Linked DNA regions of Homo sapiens. The protein of the gene in region 1 purifies or fractionates together with the protein of each later gene. This does not show direct contact. Each region holds a gene or a part of one and is shown in the gene's direction. Other genes may lie near its edges.

Region 1 (5,229 bases):
GCCAAATAATTAATTTTCATGCGAGTTTTTGATCCCCTTGAGTGTGGTTATTTTTGTGCAAAAAATTATCCCGATGTTTACTTTGGTTTCATAAGTAATTTATTAAAATTCCTTCCTAAGCTTTAAATTTCAGCTAACAAATATGAGCATGGCCTCTGGGAATGGTAAGAACAAGGAAGCATTGTGTGTGTGTGTGCACACCCCAAGGTTGTGCAGCTAGAAGTGCAGAATGTGGATTCCGTCCGCTCTTTAGGGCACAGCTAGCCCTGTGCACCTGTAGAAACTGTACTGACGTACAGCCTTGCAGAGCCTCCAGCTTCCATGGTGGCAGGAGCCATGGAAAATAGAGACCCACCCGGTAAGGAGGTAACTGGGACACCAGGTTACTGTCTACCTGGTGGGGAAGCTGGGGAAAAGGGCCCATGGGAGGATACTAACTGGGGAAGAGGAGACCTTGCTTCCAGGGCTGGGCGACCCACTTACGGAGGCCCCATTCCATTTACATCTCCGCTCAAGCCTCCGCCTCCGGGTTCCAGCCCTGGCTCTGCAATTTGCTAGCTGTGGCCCCAGGTGGTCATTCTCTCTGCACCTCAGTCTCTGCATCTCTATAAAATGGGATGATAATAGTGTTCACCTCAGAAGGTTGTCAGAGGTGTGGAAATTAAGATAATTCACATTGAGTTCTTGGCACGGCTGTGCCTAGCACTGGGTGCAGGCTGAATGCATGGGCTGCTATCGCGATGTTGTATCTAATGGCCTGCAGTGGTTGCTTAGCAGCAATGGGTTTGCTTGGTTATTTCCTGATTTGGGGTAAATAGATCCAGAGACCAAGGCTCCATGTTATCCCCAGCACCGGGCTGACCCCAAGTACCAGAGAGGTCTCCATGGCCCCAGGCTGCAGAGGACCCAGGTTACAACTTGCTCAAGTAGACCCAGGATCTAGGCTTATCCTAGTAGATCTTGGTACCAGGCCAGCCTCTGTGACCTGAGACTCCAAGACCACCATTGCAGACCCAGGCTCTAAGCTAGCCTCTGCAAACTCAGGATATATATTCCAAATATCCCTGATTTGGGGGGCAAGGTCTGTGTGTGATTTGCAGAGTAACGATATGAAGAAGGAGGTCTTGTTAAGATGGCGTGGTGTGGAGTGCCCAGGTGTGAAATGGTTGTCTCAATGGAAGTTGTAGCCTCCTCCTCCCATGACATCATCCTCACACGTGCTCAGTGTTAGGCATTTTTTCCCCCTCCTGCTCTGAATCAATGCGAGTGAGATATGCATGCGGGAGGGACAAGCTTGCATGGCACCCAGCTGTGGTACATTTAGAACTCGGCCTCAGCCCTCCAGTGTGACCTTGGGCATACCCTTCACCCCCGGGCTCTGTTCGCTGGGGCAGGGTCTGCGCTCTGGAGTCAGGCTGCCTGGGTTTGAATTTTACCTTCCTCGCCAAGTCCCTTGAGTGGCAAGTTACTTATCTTCTCATTGTCTCCGTTTTGTTATCTGAAGAATGGGACCATAGTAGTTCCCGCCTCATGGGATGATCATGTGGGTTAAATGAGAGGATGAGTATAAACTGCTCAACATCCCATGGTAGGTGCTCAGTAAATGCAGGTGCTTATGATTATAGTCAGTGTTTGGGCTGTGAATTTTGGTGGATTCTATGGTGGTGTATACAGCACTATCTATCAGTGTACCTGTCAGTGTCTGGTGATCTCTGTGCAAATCAAAAACTCTTCAGATTGAGTCTGTAGGGCTTTGTTTCAGCTCTTGTTCTTTTTCTTCATTTGAATCTTTCCTGGAACTCTTGGAGAAGTTCTTCTGTTCGTGACATTCTTCACAATCAGAGCACTGTGTTCTTGACCCTCTTAATTCAGAATATGTGAAAATCTGAATGAGGTAAAAGAAGTTGGAGCTGGAAGATGCCTTAGAAATTATCTACAGTATTTTTTTTTTTAAGATAAAACCTTTTACAGTTAGGAAAGCCAAAGCTCAGAAAAATGGAGTGACTTTGCCAGGTCCTTCAGCGAGTGGCACATCCAGGATTAAAAGCTGGCATCAGAAATCCCATGTCAGACATTCATTCGTTTATTTATTCATCTGTTGAGTGCTCAGTGCTTTGACCGGGCATCCTGAATGAGGGTCAAGCTGAGGTTCGAGGCCGTGGGTTTTGCATACAGAGCTTTCACTGGGTAAATACACAATGCTGAGAAGATTATCAGGGGCACCTGATCCCTTGACAGCTGAATAAAGAAGCGTTCCAGTGCCTTCTCTGTGGGCATCGTAAGCCATGTCCATCCATACCTGCTGTTTCACTGAAACCCCACAGCAGCCTCTGGAGGGCACCATTCTTATAATTATGCCCCTGGATTTAAGAGGAGGAAACTGAGGGGCAGGTGACTCAGTGACTTCCCCGGGGGCTCAGACGTGGTGGAGACACAGGCCCTCGGCCTCCAAATGCTGCCTCCCGCGAGCAGCCTTGCTTTTCTCCACTTGGCACAGTGGTGAGTCCTCCGATGTATCTGCTTTCATAGGAAGCTTGGGACCAGCCCTGCCCAAGGAGTGTGCCACCTGACCCCTTTTCCTGTCTTCTGTCACTTTTTTTTTTCCAAGTGTTGATATGAGTTTCAGTCTGCCCCTTCCTGGGCCTGTTTGACCTCCTGGGATTCGGCACTTAGTTATCTGTGTCATTCCCAAGGACCTCCCGTTTAGCTGGATCCCCTGACCTGTCCTGCCCTGGCCAGCCCTCTCTTGAGGTTACTCAAGTGTCCAATGGCAGCCCAAACAAATGTCTGGCTTCAGAAAATAAACTCTTCAGTCCAGCCCACTTTCCCTGTCTCCCTATCTAATGCCCTTGCAAAACAAGCCCGGGGGCGCCACACTCAGACTGTGTGTGTGTGTGTGTGTGTGTGTATCTATGAGAGAGAGAGAGACAGACAGACAGATCTGAGGCTCTAATTAGAGATACCATGCTCAGTGGAAGCTGGTTCTGAACAATGTTAACTGCCCCACCCGTGTCCATGAAGGGCAGTGGAAGAGCAAGGGGCGGTTTAATTACCTGGGATGTAAAACAGCAGGCACCCCCACTGCCCTCCTCAGCTGTTGGGGTGGCAGGGTGGAGTTGAGGGCCTCACTCGTTTTCACCTTTGCACAATCAGTCACACATTTGTTATATGACAGCTATGTGCCACACACCCATGTTCAGTAAGGTGGAAGCCAGCTGCAGGCGTGGTCCACAGTTCCAGACATCTCTGAAGGATGTGACACCAACTTTCAGGCAGAACATTTAGAAAGAGTGAAATAAAGTGAAACAGATCAACCAGCCTATTGAGTATCTACGTGTTTTTTTTACAGGCAAGAACTGAGGAGGCAATACTATTTAGAATCCTTGATAAACAGTTCCAAAAGAAAAAAAAAAACAGGCTTTGGTGACTCTCATGGGCCCTCCGTGCCAAGAGTCTATGGCTCTGTGATATATTAAATCAGGCTTGTTAATTATTTAATCTAACAGCTGCCATGCACCCTCATTTTAAAAACAGATGAGGCAATGTTTACATTTTCTCCATGTCCTCCATTTGGAAGTGTCTTAGTTTGTTTTGTGTTGCTGTAACAGAATACCACAGACTGGGCGATTTATAGACAATAGAAATTAATCTGGCTCATGGTTCTAGAGGCTAGGAAGTCCAAGAGCTTGGCACTGGCCTCTGGTGAGGGCCTTCATGCTGTGTCATTGTGGGCAAAAGAGCAAAACTTGCTTTGATAAAATCACTCTTGGCAATAACTGACCCTCCTCTTATAATAACATTAATTCATTCATGACAGCAGAACCCTCCTGACCCAGTCACCTCTTAAAAGGTCCCACCTCTCAACGCTGTTGCACTGGGGATTAAGTTTCCTTACACATGCACTTTGGGGGACACATTCAAACTGTAGCAGGAATTATTTGCTTTCTCATAACATTTTTTTAATTAATTAATTTTCAGCGTTTGTTATATCAGAATGGACATTATAGCAATTTCCATGGCTGTGTCGCTCCTGGCAGATTTTAAAGTTCTTCCAGCCTGATTCCTCTCTCTGTTTGGGTCTCTGGCATGGTGCCTGCTGGAGAGTAGATACTTGATAATTATCTATTGGGTTCTCAGGGGATCTCTCAAAGGTGGTATTCAGGCACCCACAAGGCAACTCCCATCACAAGAAAGAATGGTGGCCTGGGAGTGAGCTGTAAGGTTCCTTCAAACATCAGTTCCTGAAGCCTCTTTTATTCATTATTGTTGGGACTTGTTTTTATTTCTGTTTCGTTCTACGTGACCCCAAAATCTGTATGTGAACACTAGGAACTTTATCATGGGCTGAGGTGTATTTGAAGTAAACTCTTAACTATGTCTCTGGGATATGAAAGGTGCTTACATTCTCTGTTGGGAATGTAGAGAGAAGGATTTGCAGTGTGTGGCCCCTGGGAATGTAGAGGCATGAATTTCTGTCTGTTTTCCTGCTGTTGAAATCTGAGTGCTAGGAACGGACCTCTTGCTCTCAGATTGGCCTTGAAGCTGAAGGGAACCTGTCCACCCTCTGCACAGGGCAAGAGCCACGCCAACAGGAGGAAGTTGGAGTGCATCCTGGCACCTGCCAATCGGAAGACTGACAAACAAAAAATTAGTTTTTAATTAATTTAAAAAATGATCTTCCTACTTATCAGACACAATCACTTTTAAATATGAGCAGAAAAACGAACTCCATAGCCAAATGCAACATTTTGTGTCATACTGCTTTACATCATCTATTCTACCTCCATTCACTGGTCAAAGAAGCGCAGAGTTAAGTTGGCCAGTGTGGCGTGGACACAGCCAGGCGCAGACCCTCCTGCCAGCGAAGCCAGCGTGAGGTCTGTTGGCTCAGGGGTCCAGTCCCTGGGTCCCCGAAGAGGTAAGCCAAAGACATAGTGATACTTGGTTCAATTCGGCTCCAGAGAGTATCAGATGGGAAATAGATGACTTGTTTTACCTGGTCAAATAAGACATCACTAAAATCTACCATGACTGGAAATTACTTAATGCAACCAGAGGAGACTTCGCAGTCAAATTTTGCTTTTCCTAAAAGACACGAAATTAAATTTACATGTCACTGAATGCTATTTGAAACTGTCATTTCCTTGTATATTAGGGGGATCTGCTAGACTCTTATGTCATTGTATTTTGGAAATGGGTATATGTCCTTATTATTGGTTAATAATCATA
Region 2 (5,229 bases), on another chromosome or scaffold:
CAAGAACGCGCCATTGCACTCCAGCCTGGGCGACAAGAGTGAAACTGTCTGAAAAAATAAATAAAAATAAAAAATAAATAAAAAGACCTCTCTGAGCTTTGTCACTCAAAGTGTGGTCCACAGACCAGCAGCATCAGTCACACCTACTGTGTCAGAAGACTCGGGTGACTCACACACATTTCAGTCTGAGAAGCGCTGATTAGAGGGCAGTGTTCGGGACAGATGAGTGCAGGGGGAATTGCTAGGGGTTCGTAAAAGAGCTCTCTTTTTCTTCCAGCGGTGAAGCACTATGAGGACTGTAATTCTAATGGAGGCGTCTCTCATGTCTACACATCTATGTTTCTGTATCGTCTCTGCTGTTTTGCTTTATCGTGAAGTGTGGGGCATTTCGGCCATGTGCCCCCCTGAGTGGCATGGTTGTCTACCCTAGAGAAAGGGAAACTGAACACATGTTCCTGAGATCCCGGTGTTGTTATTTCCTCCAGCCTCCTTTCTCCTTCACAGTGTACTGAGCACAGTTAGTACAGTGCCATGAGCAGTTCTGTTAGTAGCTACCTTTGAGATCTCTCTCCCTGCCCTACTAACCCTGTGGCTCAAACAGAGTTATATGGTCACTGTTACACTATTCCATAATGATTTGTTTTCTTGCTGGTCTCTGTAGTAGAAACTGACCCTTTTGGGGCAGGGACCCTATCTTTCTTATTTCTGTACCAACATAGCCTTGGATCATGCCTAGTCCAAATAAGCATTTAATAAAGGCTTTTTGGTTGAAGAATGAATGAATGGATGGATGAATGAATGGAATTTAACCATTCAAACACTACTCTGATCCAAAAGGAGAACTTGATTTATAATTTGTCTTAATGTATCATTTGGCTATTTCTGTGTAATAAATCACCCCAAAATTTAGTGGTTTCAGATTCTCAGTTCTTAAGATCTGATCCCTGGACAGAAGCATCACCTGGGAACTTGCTAGAAATGCAAATTGTTGGGCCCCGTCACAGACCAGCTGGATTCAGAACTCTAGGGTGGGCTTAACAGTCTCTGTTTTAACAAGCCCTCATGGTGATTCCATGCTGGTTCAAGTTTGAAAGCACTGGATTAAAACGGTAGCCATTTATTTAGCTCATGATTCTGTAGTTTGGCAATTTAGGCTGCAGTCAGCTGGGTGGTTCTGGTCTCAGCTGAACTCCTTCAAGTTTGTCATCAGCTGTTTATCACCTTTGCTGGTCTTGTCTGGCTCTCTCACTTTGGGACTTCAGCTAGGACACTGAGCTGATCTGGCTCTCTTCTGCATGGGCTCCTGTTTTCCTGCAGGCTAGCCTTGAGCAGAATCCTGAGAGAATGGAAGCGTGCAAGGTATCTTGATGCCTAGCCTTGGAAATGGCACATCATCACTTCTGCATTGTCTTGTGTAGCAACTCACAAAGGTAGCTCAGATTCAAGGAGTGGAGAATTAGATTTCATCTCTTGATGGGAGGAGCTACAAAGTCTCATTGCAAAGATGTGTGTTATTAATTGGGAGTCATTGGATAACCCCTCTCAGGAAGAACCTTAAGAAGGTACTGTTTTGGGGTAGGACAGGGCACTCTGTTTCTTTCCCATCTACCTAGTAGGGGATAGATACTGCTTTCTTCTATAATATTCGGGCTAGGAAAAAATCCAAGAGTAGCTTAGGGTCCCCCCGTGATGTGAAGGGGAATTAGAGTGGAAGAGGTCATGGGAAAGTCTTGAGCTAGAGAGAGTACAAGTCCTTAATTCATCCTCTCCCAGGAACAAAGGGGAACTTCAAGGGGAGTGGACCCCAAATTGATTGTCTTGGCTTTCTCTGCCTTTTAAATACCTTTGGCTCAAAGAAACCACAAAATATGAGATGGCTGTTTCTCTCTTTGAGTCAGGGATTCAGACACAGGCTCTGGGAACATGACTTCAGCTTCGTGGAGCCAGGCCCTGCCTGGAAGCAGAATCTTTGTCCGTGGACATGGTGCCTAGGACAGCAGAAGACATTCCGGATGGGGTGTGATAGCTTCCTGGTTTGGACTTGGCAGAAGGCAATCCCCTGTGAGCAGTCCTCAGGAGCACTGGCAACACAGCAGTGCCATTGGCTCCCACCTGCCCAGGGTCACAGCTTGCCCACCCTTTAGGTATTTTTTTATTTTTATTTTTTTGAGACAGAGTCTCACTCTGTCGCCCAGGCTGGAGTGCAATGGCACCATCTTGGTTCACTGCAATCTCTGCCTCCCGGGTTCAAGCAATTCTCCTGCCTTAGCCTACCAAGTAGCTGGAGACTACATGCGTGTGCCACCATGCCCAGCTAGTTTTTGTGTTTTAGGAGAGACTAGTTTTGCCACATTGGCCAGGCCTGTCTCGACCTCTTGACCTCAAGTGATCCGCCCGCCTCGGCCTCCCAAAGTGCTGGGATTTACAGGTGTGAGCCACCACACCCAGCCCCATCCTCTAGTTATGATGATACTTTCTAAAGCTGAGAGTTGGGCCTGTGAATTATCTTATTGAGAGACAGAGCTTCACGGGATCTTAGAGGTTGGCACAGACGTTTACTAGCCCTGGTCAGATGCTAAGGCTCTGATGCCTCCTTAGCCCCGGCGTTGGCTTTGAGGCCATGTAGAATCACTCTGATATTCTTATTCACATCAACCTTTTGTTTTAATGTATTTGAAGATACCATGGTCTCTTTTAAATATTTTTTTCCCCGGGCCATGAACTTCACAGGTCTCTGTTTTTTATATAGGATAATAACACAATATTTGTAGAATAGTTTGGTTTGTAAAGCTCTTTGTAGAGCAGCTTTCACACATGGCTCACCAATTACCTCATTTGGTGCCCCTCACACTGGAGGCATGGTAGGAATTGGTGTCCTTATTACACAGAGGAGGAGAGCAAGGCTGGTGGTGGTGAAGTCACTCAGCCAGAGAAGCCAGAGTGTAACCTATTTCCTGGTACCAGGCTTTCTCTCCTGTTATATAGAACATCTTCCTGTCTCTGACCTCAGGGCGTCTCTCTTACCCTGGAGTCTCTACTTCCCATCCCCCATCCACACAACCCAGAATACACCCCTGTGGCTGGATGTGGCATTATTGGCTGTGAGTTGTCTGGCTGCTGCACAGTGTGCACAGACTCCCTCATACGGAGACTCACAGGACAGTCTGAAATGCTCATTTTTTTCAGTGGCCAGTCACAGTATTGGCACGTATCAAGCTTAGGGCCTGCTCAGCAAAGCACATGGCACCAATAATATTAGCCCTATTTTTATTATAAGCATCACTAAAAATTGCCATGTACTGTAGTCAAGTCAGGTCACAGTACACATCTGGTGTAGAGCAAGAGGAAGACTGTGAAATTCCCTCTTCCCTAGATCCTTAAGTGTTAGTCTTGGAAAAGAATTCAGAGGTCATTTCATTTAGCTTCCTTGTCTATCTGGTGAGGAGACTGAGACCCAGAGGTCTTGAGCAGCTTTCCAGGAGCCTCACAGCAAGTTAGTAATTTGTGTGGTTAGGTCATTAAGTTAGAGGTTAAGTTGTGAAACTGGCAAATAGGGCTATATTCCTGTCCTTAAAGAATGAGAGTGAAAGAAGAGGAAAAAGGCCTCCTTTAATTTGTTTTCCTGTCCATTTATTTGCTTGTTTTGGTAAATTAGGAGAGAGAGAGAATCCAAGATTCTAAACAAATATGTCAAATTACCAGCACTGGGTTGAGTTTGAACTGTGACCTCACGTGGTTTTTTAAAAGACTACGTTCAGAGGCTGGGCTCAGTGGCGCACGCCTGTAATGCCAGCACTTTGGGAGGCCTAGGAGGGCAGATCACTTGAGGTCACGAGTTCAAAACCAGCCTGACCAACATGGCGAAACCCTGTCTGTACTAAAAATACAAAAATTAGCCAGGCGTGGTGGTGGGCACCTGTAATGCCAGCTACTTGGGGGGCTGAGGCAGGAGAATCACTTGAACCTGGGAGGCGGAGATTGCAGTGAGCCAAGATTGCACCACTGTACTCCAGCCTGGGCGACAGAGCAAGACTCCATCTCAAAAAAAATAAAAAATAAAAAAACTAAAGACTATGTTCAGGATACTGTATTGCTGAAATACAAATGATATTCATAATGCAGTTTTGGAGAAATTTCAGCCAAGGATGGAAGCCTGGGGAACACTGTGTTCGTCCAATCATACTGCTAGGTCCTTAAAAGCATGGGCCCTGTCTTCACTTCAGTTTGTAGCTCCAACACCCAGTACAATTGCCAACAGAGAGAGGGTACTCAGGAGGCATTTTCTGAGTGACCACATGCGCAGTGGAACACTGACTCAGTGATTCCTCTCTCTCCCCTGCCTGTCTCCATCTGTCTCCCCTTGCCCCTGCCATAGGGAAGTCTAAGCAATTTGGCCTTTTTGAAATGAAAATAGTGTCTCAGAATCCCCGCAAAGCCTCTGGGTTTTCAGGAGTGTCCACTGAAGTCCCCCCTTCCCCAGGACCTTTGTCATTTGAGACATGCTCTAACCTGGCACCAGTCTTGTGTCTTCTCTAGCCTCCCCTGACTGTCTGGCTTTTATGTCTGCACAGGAGCGTTCCTGGGTGCCTGTGTGGCTGGGTCTGATGAGCCTGGCCCAGAGGGCCTCACCTCCACCTCCCTGCTAGACCTCCTGCTGCCCACTGGCTTGGAGCCACTGGACTCAGAGGAGCCTAGTGAGACCATGGGCCTGGGAGCTGGGCTGGGAGCCCCTGGCTCAGGCTTCCCCAGCGAAGAGAATGAAGAGTCTCGGATTCTGCAGCCACCACAGTACTTCTGGGAAGAGGAGGAAGAGCTGAATGACTCAAGTCTGGACCTGGGACCCACTGCAGGTAGCTCTTCTTACCTACAGAGCATGTGTTGAGTGCCAGCCAAGTGTCTAGGCAAAACACCAGGTGACCATTTCCTTGCCAGAAGCATCTCTTCTCTCTCCCTACAGTTTTTACCATGCTGCTGCTGTTTACCTGCACATCAGAGCAAAGGCTCTGGGACCCTGAATGTCTCACAGGCCCAGGAGGCCCTTTCTCTTTAATACTAACCACTGTTTAGGGAGCCTTTATTCTGTGCTCATTTAATTCAATCTGATGCTTATAACCTGAGAGATAAGTAATATGACCCCCCTTGTAGACAAGAAAACACTGAGACTGAGAGGTTAAAAGCTGGCCTGAGGTCAAACAGCAGCTCAGATGCTCAGTCATGATTCAGACCTAT
Region 3 (5,229 bases), on another chromosome or scaffold:
TCAGATTGCATAATTTCTATTGATCTATCCAAGTTCTCTGATTGTTTTTTCTGTTAGATCTACTGTTGAGCTACTCTAATGAATTTTTATTTCAGTTACTATAGTTTTTAACTTCAGAATTTCTATGTGGTTCTTTTGATATATATATAATTTCTTTATTAATACTCTATGTGATGAAACATTGTCATCTTCTGTTACTTCCTTAAGTGTGACTTCTTTTAATTCTTTGAACATACTTACAATGGCTGCTTTGGAATTTTTGTGTATTAAAGCTAATGTCTGGGCCCTAACACAGGCAGTTTTTGTTGCTTGCCGGTTTTTTTTTTTTTTTTAAGCGTATGTCACATCTTCTTGTTTCTTTGCATTCCTCATTATTTCTTTTTCGAAAACTAGACATTTTAGGTAATACACTGTGGCAACTCTGGATACTGATTTCCCTCTACCACCACGGCTTGGTTTTTTTTTTTCCTTGTTTATTTATTTATTGACATGGCTGGACTATTTTAACAAATTATTTCTTCCTCCTTCCCCGACCTTTTGGCAATATGAAGCCTCTGCTGTTGCTCCTCAGGGCCTGTGCAGTTATCCTAGGATGGCATTGGATTTAGCAGGGCTCTCTTTATCTCTTTCCATGCCTCCATTGGTATCACTCCTATTAGACTCCACTGACTGTTCACTAATTGCTGTCTTGTTTTTGACAATGCTCTGGGGCATAAATTGCTCCATAATCTGTCCCTACTAAATTGGGCCCTTTTGCAGGGATAGTTTTTGCAGCAAGTCTTTGAGATTTGTTCAGACCCCAGGAGGTATATTCTTACTATCTCTCTCTGTGGTTCTCTCTAGTAAATTAGCTGGCCTACAGTTTAGCTGTTGCCCTCCTGGAGTTACCAGCCTCCTCTTAATTGCTTACTACCAAAATCTCCATTATTTTCAAGAGGCTGGAACTTCTCTAAACTCTGAACTTCTCTACATTCTATTTTAAATAAAGTCAGTTCCTTAGGGAAGAACTTTGGAGCACTTTGTTCTTATGGACTTCCTCTCCCCCGGGGGAAAAAATCCATGAGGTTTTGCCCTGAGGATGGGGACAGTGACACACTTATTAAGCAGAGTGACCACCTCTGCCCTATGAGCAGGACACTGGGTAGGGGCAGGAGGACCCCCAGTATTCTCAGCTGGCCACACCTGGAAGTGGAGCCTCCACCCTGTTGCTGTGGGCTGGGTGAAAAAGAGCTGCACCTGTTTAGAACTTAGACTCTTTATTTGGAGCTTCTGTTCCCTTGTTTCCTTTCTTCCTGGTATTCCCATTATACATATGTTACATCTTTTGTAGTTGTCCCACCGTTCTTAGATATTTTGTTCATTTTATTTTCAGTCTTTTTTTTTCTTTGATTTTCTGTTTTGGAAATTTTTATTGTCATATCCTCAAGCTCAGAGATTGTTTCTTAAGCTAAGTCCGGTCTACTAATGAACCCATCTAAGGCATTCATTTATTTCGCAGTGTTTTTGATCTCTAGCATTTTTTTAAATTCCTTAGATCCATCTCACTGCTTATGTTCCGCATCTTGTGTGTTATCTGCTCTTTCCATTAGAGCCCTTAGAGTATTATACATAGTTGTTTTAAATTCCCAGCCTGATAATTCCAACATCCCTGCTGTATCTGAATCTGGATCTGGTACATGCTCTGTCTGTTCATACTGTGTTTTTCTTAACTTTTAGTATACCTTGTCATGTTTTCTGTTGAAAGTTGGACTTGATATACTGCGTAAAAGGAACTGCAATAAATAGGCCTTTGATGATGTGGTGGTGAAGTGTGGAGGGAGCGGAAGTGTTCTGTAGTCCCATAAGTAAGTCTCAATCTCTTAGTGATCCTGTATCCCAGACTCTGAATTTCACACATGCTTCTCAGTCTCCCCTCCTCTCCTGGACAGGATGACTAGAAGGGGCTCTAGTTGGGTAGATTTCTTCCTCCAAGTCAGTTAGGCACTGATAAAACCCCAGCAGGTTAGGCTCTGGTTAAATAACTTCTCCTAAGGACAGGCTTTGTTAATAATGACAACATGCTGTGGCATACTTTAAAATGATTACCTTTTCCCCTTCCCCACTGCTGGACGCATTAAGAGATTTTTCTCTGATCTTCACCACTGAGGACCTAATAGAGCTCCTAGAGGTAAAACTCACATGAGTATGGGGGTCCCAATATGACCAGGTCCCCCTGGAGTTTTTAACACTCAGACTTACCTCCCCTGAGCCTCCAGCAATTTGTCGATTACAGTTAGGGTTTTCCTACCTGGGTACTGGTCCCCACAGAGATTTCTGCTCCAGTAAGTTGGAATTCTTTGTATCTGCCTATCTGTCTCACCAGTTTTGAGGGCAGTGGTTTACCCTGTGACCTCACTTCTCTGTGAGAGACCTAAGAGGAGTTGTTGCTTTTTCAGTGTTCAGCTTTTGACTTGTTAGGATGGAGTGATGACTTCTAGCTCCAGGCATGCCAGACCAGAAACTGAGAATGCCCCATTTGTTTTAAGTATATGTACCATCTCTAATATTCTAAGAGCTTATATCTACAAGGAAGAAAAGCTGATATGTATCAGACATAGCATTTAGTAAAGCTCTGATTGTTTAATACTTTTCAGAGATCCCCAGATTATTGTCCATCCTGTTAATGTGAAATTAAGTGGGATAGAATTATTTGACAGGAGCCGGGCATGGTGGCTCGAACTTGTGGTCCCACTTACTAAGGAGGCTAAGGCAGAAGGATCACTTGAGCCCAGGAGATGGAGGCTGCAGTGAGCTATGATTGCACCTCTGCACTCCAGCCTGGGCAACAGAGTGAGAACACATCTCTGAAAAATAAAAATTATTTGACAGGCCAGGCACGGTGGCTCACGCCTGTAATCCCAGCACTTTGGGAGGCCGAAGTGAGTGGATCATCTGAGGTCAGGAGTTCAAGCTTACGAAGATGACGGGATTAAGAGATTAAAGTAAAGACAGGCAATCACAAGGGTATTGATTGGGGAAGTGATAAATGTCCATGAAATCTTCACAATTTATGTTCAGAGATTGCAGTAAAGACAGGAGTAAGAAATTATAAAAGTATTAATTTGGGGAACTAATAAATGTCCATGAAATCTTCACAATTTATGTTCTTCTGCCATGGCTTCAGCCAGTCCCTCCATTCGGGGTCCCTGACTTCCTGCAGCAGCCCACTCCAGTTAGCCTTCTGCCCCATCACTCTATCAGAATTGTTCTGGGGAAGTTTATAAGTAACATTTATGCTGCCAGGTCCAGTCAGTTCTTCTTAAATTCTTCACTGAATAGCACACACTTGACAACTTCTTCCTCAAGACACTTTCTTCACGTGGCTACTACAATGGCACCTTTTCCAGAATTTTCTCCCTCACCTGGGGCCACTTCTCAATCTCATTTCCTGACTTAACTTTCTTTACCTCTATTTAACCTCTAGAAATTGGCATTTCTTAGTGTTTAGACCTAGGCCCTGTTTTCCTTCCAAATTCCTTCAGTAATTTCATTCATTCCTGTAGCTTTAAATAATCTATGGACCCATTCTCAAATTTATATCTCCAGCTTGGCCCTTTCTTCTTTTTCCACTCTGGGGAGTTTTTCTATAGCCCAGAAAAGCGTGTGTCTCAAAGGACAGAAAATGTGGCTGGTCGCAGTGGCTAATGCCTGCAATCCAGCACTTTGGGAAGCCAAGTGGGCGGAACACTTGAACCCAAAGTTCGAGACCAGCCTGGGCAACATGGTGATACCCCATCTCCACCAAAAAAAAAAAAAAAGCTGAGTATGGTGACATGCGCCTGTGGTCCCAGCTACTCGGGGCTGAGATGGGAGGATCGCCTGAGCCACGGAGGTCGATGCTGCAGTGAGCCATGATCACACCACTGCACTCCAGCCTGGGTGACAGAGTGAGACCCTGTCTCAAAAAAAAAAACAAAAAAAAAAAGAAAACATAAAAAGTTAATGGTGGTGAGATTATAGGTGACTTGTATTTTCTTCTCCTTTATTTGACTTTTTGTAGATTTTCTACAGGACTTTGAAATTTACAAAGTGTTCTTAAATATTTAACCCCATTTTGATACTGTCAACAACCAACCTTGAGCTCCTTGAGTCCAAGTGTCAGCTCAAAACTGGACTTCCGGTGACTGGGAGTCACTCCTCCATGCCAGGTGTCTCGTGCTACCTTTTTGCTGAACCATCCCATCCCTTTTGAAGCAGAACATTTAAAATTTTATATATATCCCTGTGCTCTGGCTAATAATAGGCAGTTATTTATAGTGTCAATTTTGATCTTACAGGTGGATTTGACATGGAAGTGAAAGGTTGGGGTGGAGAAGATGTTCATCTTTATCGAAAATACTTACATGGTGACCTCATTGTGATTCGGACTCCGGTTCCTGGTCTTTTCCACCTCTGGCATGAAAAGCGCTGTGCTGATGAGCTGACCCCCGAGCAGTACCGCATGTGCATCCAGTCTAAAGCCATGAATGAGGCCTCTCACTCCCACCTGGGAATGCTGGTCTTCAGGGAGGAAATAGAGACGCATCTTCATAAACAGGCATACAGGACAAACAGTGAAGCTGTTGGTTGAAATCATAATTAATGCGTTACTGTATGAACCACAAAACAGCACTATTTATTTAGCCTTACTTCTACTTCCAGATGCAGTGCCTCTTTTGGAGAAGACATGTTTATTTTTCATGTTCTTTCTGACATTACTTTAGCAATTCAACTTGATGTGAGAAGAAAAAACAAATGTTTCAACACAAAATCTCTGTTTTGTGAGAATACTGCACTATGGAATAATTGACAAATTGAAATCTCATATTTGTCCCAAAAGTTGTTTTGAGTTAGTTCTACCTGGTGCCCATGTTCTGATTGTGTGTGGGATTGCATGGTGTCCTGATTGCATCTAGGTGGAGCGGATGGAATGTGCTGGGCCACTGTTGGGTGGAGAGCAGCACATTCTTACAGAGGAGATGGAGCGTTATGAGCATAGTATGTGGATAGGTATCTTCACCTGCCCGCCCCTGAGTCAGCCTCCTTGACTTGATAGCTTGAAGAATCCTTTTCCACTGAAATAGAGGATAATTAATTGACACATCTGAAATCCCCAATCAATCAATCAAGAGAAAGGTAGAACTAAAAACTCCTTAACTTACTGTTGCTTACACCCCTGAAAGTCTGTTTTTAAGCAAATGGGTAATAGTA

The links.
Region 2: the proteins of B3GALT5 (region 1) and PODXL2 purify together in Homo sapiens (affinity purification with mass spectrometry; one large-scale study listed by BioGRID and IntAct). This does not show direct contact.
Region 3: the proteins of B3GALT5 (region 1) and CSGALNACT2 purify together in Homo sapiens (affinity purification with mass spectrometry; one large-scale study listed by BioGRID and IntAct). This does not show direct contact.

What each region holds. Positions count from the first base shown.
Region 1 is NC_000021.9:39,667,329-39,672,557, forward strand, and holds part of B3GALT5 (beta-1,3-galactosyltransferase 5), read left to right. Parts: 3' UTR 1-5,229. UniProt on the Homo sapiens protein: Catalyzes the transfer of Gal to GlcNAc-based acceptors with a preference for the core3 O-linked glycan GlcNAc(beta1,3)GalNAc structure. Can use glycolipid LC3Cer as an efficient acceptor.
Region 2 is NC_000003.12:127,634,674-127,639,902, forward strand, and holds part of PODXL2 (podocalyxin-like protein 2 precursor), read left to right. Parts: intron 1-4,571; coding exon 4,572-4,850; intron 4,851-5,229. UniProt on the Homo sapiens protein: Acts as a ligand for vascular selectins. Mediates rapid rolling of leukocytes over vascular surfaces through high affinity divalent cation-dependent interactions with E-, P- and L-selectins.
Region 3 is NC_000010.11:43,178,934-43,184,162, forward strand, and holds part of CSGALNACT2 (chondroitin sulfate N-acetylgalactosaminyltransferase 2), read left to right. Parts: intron 1-4,316; coding exon 4,317-4,609; 3' UTR 4,610-5,229. UniProt on the Homo sapiens protein: Transfers 1,4-N-acetylgalactosamine (GalNAc) from UDP-GalNAc to the non-reducing end of glucuronic acid (GlcUA). Required for addition of the first GalNAc to the core tetrasaccharide linker and for elongation of chondroitin chains.